Regions from separate parts of the Homo sapiens genome. Here region 1 is linked to region 2. The links come from fine-mapping of genetic effects on plasma protein levels. Region 2 holds a variant in brackets. A gene starts in the other region. All regions are shown on their forward strands.

The links. A credible set is the group of variants that fine-mapping cannot tell apart. PIP is the posterior inclusion probability: the model's chance that the variant is causal. The UK Biobank Pharma Proteomics Project read protein levels with antibody pairs (Olink). The fine-mapping took linkage between variants from a reference panel, not from the people measured, so its PIPs are less certain.
Region 1: it holds the start of ENPP5, and the variant in region 2 is the best candidate, but not a certain one, in a credible set for the plasma level of the ENPP5 protein (UK Biobank, PIP 0.53).

The regions. Positions count from the first base shown.
Region 1 is chr6:46,169,227-46,172,246 of GRCh38, forward strand. ENPP5 (ectonucleotide pyrophosphatase/phosphodiesterase family member 5) reads right to left here and starts at 1,754. Exons shown (of 5, transcript NM_001290072.2): 1 at 1,582-1,754; 2 at 827-888. RefSeq lists a silencer at 1,926-1,985.
Region 2 is chr8:11,862,178-11,864,696 of GRCh38, forward strand. The region is part of intron 1 of CTSB (cathepsin B); the gene reads right to left. Among named protein-coding and RNA genes, the nearest start is that of CTSB, 4.6 kb to the right of the region's middle. The variant C/T (reference allele first, on the strand shown) is at 1,394.

The DNA of each region.
Region 1 (3,020 bases), not on the chromosome of region 2:
CAGTTTTCATCAGGCGTGCACATCCAGCAGGGATCTTTTGTTCTCTCATTTTTCTACCCATTCCTGCATGAAGGTATTTATAAACCCACCAAAACTTAGATCAAACCACACTTGTACAAATAAATCTCTTGAAACTGCCTTTTGATATCTTCCTAAGCTGAAGACTTCTTTTTTTTTTTTTTTTGAGAGGGAGTCTCACTCTGTTGCCCAAGCTGGTGTGCGGTGGCACGATCTCAGCTTACTGCAACTTCCGCCTTCCGTGTTCAAGCAATTCTCCTGCCTCAGTCTCCCAAGTAGCTGGGACTACAGGCGCCCGCCACCACACCCAGCTAATTTTTGTATTTTCAGTAGAGACAGGGTTTCGCCATGTTGGCCAGCCTGGTCTCAAAACTGCTGACCTCAGGTGATTCACCCTTCTCGGCTCCCCAAAGTGCTGGGATTACAGGCATGAGCCACCGCAGCCGGCCTGAAGACATTTTTAAACTTCAAAAATATATCCTGTTTCACCTTGCTGTATTATAGGTACAGGTAAATAAAAACTACTTGGCATGCTTGCTTTGCTTTCAGAAATACAAGGTATATGTACATTGTGGGTATTCGCTGAGGGCAATAAATTCTGTTTTGCTGGTTTTAAACTGTGTTTTCACCATACCTAGACATTTCTTAAACTGAAATTGTTTTAGGTATTGGTCTCAAGATGATAGCTCAAATGTCATATTTAAAAACGATTTCTTGGATGGCAATACTCTCTCTGATTCTGGAAGGAACATTAAACACAGTTGCAGCAAGGAATAGCAAATAGGTTACTGCAAATATATTTACTCACCTATCTGGCTATGGATGGTAGTTGCTCTCTCTGTCCTTTCTCCCCCTAATTTTCTCTCCCACCTTTTTAAAACAAGGAAGGCTAGTATCAACCAAATGTAATTTAAGGCTAAAAGCAGAGGAAATAAACTACATGGAACACCTCATTTTCATCTATCTTAGCAAATTAATTCGGCACATGTGTAAGCAGGAGAAAACTGCTTTCTTGGGACCAACAAAAGTAAGCAAAGATTAAGTGTTGTCTAAAGCTTAGGAATGTTTGGCAAGAAGACTCAACATCACATCCATGACACAGAGCAATAAACAGAGGTGGGGGGTGGGGAATGAAAACAATCAGAATTTTTTTTTTTTTCGTGCACAAAATGCTGCACAAAACAGTGGAATCCCTGGATCTGGCTCCACATTTCATTGAGTACTTTCCAGTTCTTTCTCCCCTCCAACCCTTCCTCCACAAACAGACTTGGAGAGCAGGAAGGACGGGGCACCGATTAAACGGAAGAGGGAAAGTGCAGAAGGAGTAGGTTTGTGTAGCTCGGGTAGACGTCAAGGGCGGGGGTGTCCATCTTCTCCACCAGGATTCCATCCTAGCCACCCAGAATGGTCGCGGCGTAGGTTATGTTCCCAATTCCCAGTCATCCCGCCCACCGAGGCCTGGGCTTCTTAGATGTGCAGTGGCAAGGAGGGGACGTTGCTTTAGGGACCCAGAGGAGCAGTGTGGGTTCCCGGGAGGGAAGCCACCCACGCCCCTGGACTCACCCTCGCAGCGATCCGTTCAGTCCGTATTAGTTTGGAGCAACGGGAGGGAGGGTCTGGAGGAGACTCCCTCGGGCGCGCCGCGGGTAACGGCGGGAGGGTGACTGGAGGAACGCCCCCGGAACGCGCAGGAGCTCACCTGCGCTCAACTCTGGAGCGGAGCACCTGACCGCGCCGCTTCCCCGCCCCGCCTCCTGGCTTCTATTGGCTGCTGCAGAGATAGTCACTTCTGCCTGGGTTGCCCCCGAAAGCCAGGCTCCCAGGAGTAGCTGCACGGCCTGTCAATCAGCGGGGGCAGGGGCGGGCGCTGCCTGGGTTTGGAGGGTGGAGGGGGAGGGGACTCCCGGGGGCAGGGACCCATCTGGTAGGGCGAAGGCGTGGGATGGCCAATTGCTTGGTCACACACAAAACCTTCCGGCAACGTGCCTTTTCCAGGGGACCAGCTGTGCTGGAGTCAGTGATGCTGAGAGATTATTGCGTGTTACCCCAATGGTGGGTGTACTCTAACAGTCACTGTTTTTTGTTTAAAAGCGACTTGTATTCTCTGATTTCTTATCCCAGGCTTTTTTCCTTCCCCCGCCCCCCGCCCCCTGCCTTGTCACGAATTGGCGATGGGGCACACCATGGGCTTTGCTCTGAGGAACACCTGCACACCCGAGGATGCCAATGGGACGATGAAGTTTCATTCTTTTTATTAGTGGGTGTTATCTGCTTTACCTCAGAAAGAATTTATTAACCTAGTCAACTCTGCAGCCCCAACGTTTGCAGTCCAGGTTTTTGCAATTGAGGTCCCTGAGGTATATTTGTGGTGTACCTAGCATGGCACCTGAAATTGTGCGAATTAAACCAAGACAGGTTCAGAATTAGGTTAATTTGCACAGGAGAGAGGCTGAACAGCCACCCTCTCTGGTGGTGGCATCCGAGCTCCAGACTCTGTTTCTACCTTTGTTTGCAAAGTAAACATTAAAACTACAAACATCAGGCCTGATTACTCTTTCAGAAAGCCTTCAGTGCTTCTTGTGTGTTAGTGCCCCTATTTTGTCTTTTTCCGTACTGTAGTGGATTATTTTCTCAGTTTTTTTGGGATAATCAATGGCATTTTTAGGCCTGAGGGAGTGTAGGCAGGTACTTAGTTTGCCAGTATGATCCCAACTGTCTTTACCATAAATTATAGCAGTGATATCAAACTACCCTGAAAGAATTTGTCCATCTACACAATCCCAGCTAGAATTCTGACCTAATTAGAATTCTAGTTCTATCTGCAGTAGGCAATAATATCAGGTTGATTGTTACAATGTAAGTTTAACATCTAATTAGCTGGTAAAACTGGGAGCATATCTGCAATGGTGGTTTTGGCTCCTGCCCGGAGCTCGGATCCCTTGTCTGGTGTGCTGGAGCTTTAAAGTGAATAGAGATATCTGTTGATATTTAATTAAGCCATG
Region 2 (2,519 bases):
GCCTGGGCGACAGAGTCAGACTCCATCTCAAAAAAAAAAAAAAAAAGAAAGGCCTAGCTCTTGGATCCAGCTAGGTCCTGTTTTCCTCCCTTGGGGCCCTGGGAACAGATACCCATCTCGCAAGGCTGATGGAAGATACAAGGAGACACTCTTTTGAAAGTGCCTACCCTGCACCAGGCTCAGAGCAGCGCCATCTGGGAGAAACTTCCTCAGTCACTGGGAGCGTGAAAAGCCATCTCCTTATACATAGGACAGCCAACGTTTGCATCCCAGAGTCATCATTTCTATTTTCAGAAGTATCCTAATTTGGATGAAAAATAATGGAAATTGTACTATCAGTGACAAGGCCTTAAAAGTTGATTTGTTCTGCTGTCTTGACTGCCAAAGCAAAGCATGTCCCAAACACCAGGAAGGCTGAGTGGGTTGGGAATGGGTGGCAGGTGGCCCCCAGCACTCTGATGTGGTTTGATGATACGCTTCCAACCCTCGAATGGGAAAAGCCTGTGGCTGGCACCGCCCTCCTGGGACTTGCGCAAGCCAGGAAGCTGTGTGACTGTGTGTGTGCACATTCTGCCAGAGTCCAGGTCAGCACGTCAGAGGGTCATGAGACAGCCCGGCCCTCCGGGCTCTTAGGGCAGAATATCTAGATGTCTTCTACAGGGCTCTCTACTGGTCCCGTTACCATCTTGGCCACATTGGGCCCATCCTTCTCCATGCATGCTTGCTGGTGATGCTAGATTATCTTGATGACCAGACCAAAGAAGTTACTGGCCTGGTAAAGACAGATAACACAGTCAAGACTGCCAGCCACACATCCTTCTCAGCACCCAGCATTTAGAAAACATCAGTTCTGGGCTGAGCACAGTGGCTCACATCTATAATTCTGACACTTCGGGAGGCCAAGGTGGGAAGATTGACTGAACCCAGGAGATTAAGACCAGCCTGGGCAGGATAGTGACCTCGTCTCTATATAGAAAATTAAAATTTAAAATAAAAAATAAATAGGCTAGCGGTGGCTCAGGCCTGTAATCTCAGCACTTAGGGAAGCCAAGACAGGCAGATCATGAGCTCAGGAGTTCAACACCAGCCCGACAAACATAGTGACATCCCGTCTCTACTAAAAATACAAAAATTAGCTGGGCGTGGTGGCACACGCCTGTAATCCCAGCTACTCAGGGGGCTGAGGCAGGAGAATCACTTGAACCCGGGAGGCGGAGGTTACAGTGAGCCGAGATTACACCACTGCACTCCAGCCTGGCGACACAGTGAGACTCCGTTTCAAAAAAAAAACAAAAAAACCCAGCAAATATGCCATCACTGACCAACAATAAAAACAGGAAAAGTGTCACTCAACCCATTTATGCCAGAGGTTGCAATTTTTTAAATTTTTGCA[C/T]GAGTAAAAACATCAGACCTTGGCGATGACCTTGAGCAGTATGATGTAAAAACTCCCACATGCTTAGCGTTCTAATAATGGAACACTAGGCATAAGTGGGTTACTGTTGTCCTACAGCAAAGATTAAATTTGAATTTCTGGTCATGAAATTAAAACAGGGGTACCACTTCAAACCCATCAGATTGGCAAAAATCAAAGTCTGGTACTATCTAGTGTTGGTAAATGTGAGGAACAGGAACTCTGCACACTGCTGGGCGAGTAAATTGATGCAACCACACTGGAGAACCCTTTGCCAGCATCTAGCAAGATGGAAGATGAACACACCTCATGACCCAGAAACAAACTCTCCCACATGTGCCCTGCAGAAACTCTTCTAAGTATCTGGGAGACACAGGATATTTATTGTAGCATGGGATAATAGTGAACACGAAATAACATAACTGTCCCTCAGTAGATAAACACACTGGGCACTTAACACAAATGGACTAGAACTGGATGTAGCAACAGAAATAAATCTCACAACCGTGAGTGAAAAAGGATCCATGTAGTGTAACTGAAGTCATATAAACTTTAATAACATTGTTTATACACTGATGCAGAGTTTTAAAAGTACAAAAAGGCCTGGAGGTGACTCATGCCTTGTAATCCCAGCATTTGGAAGGCCTAAGTGGGAGGAGGCAAGGGGATCACTTGAAACCAGGAGTTTCAGAGCAGTCCTGGCAACAGTGAGACCCTGTCTCTACCAACGAAAAAAAAAAAAAAAAAAAAAAAAACCTGGGCACCGCCTGTGGTCCCAGCTACTTACTACTCGGGAGGCTGAGGTGGGAACCAGATCGCTTACATCTGGGTGGCTGAGGCTGCCGTGAGCCGTGGTCGCACCACTGCACACCAGCCTGGGAGACAAAGCAAGACCCTGTCATTAATCAAACAATAAATGAATGAATGCATGAACAAAAAAATGTGCAGAAGAATCCAAAAGAGGGGCAGCAGACAGGGAATACAATGGCCCTTGGAAGGATCAGGAAACAGGCACAGGAGTGGTCTACAGAGGCGGACGATAAGGCTTGAAACTAAAAAAGAGATTAGTTAAAAGTCTAAACACATGGCTGGGCACAGTGACTCACAC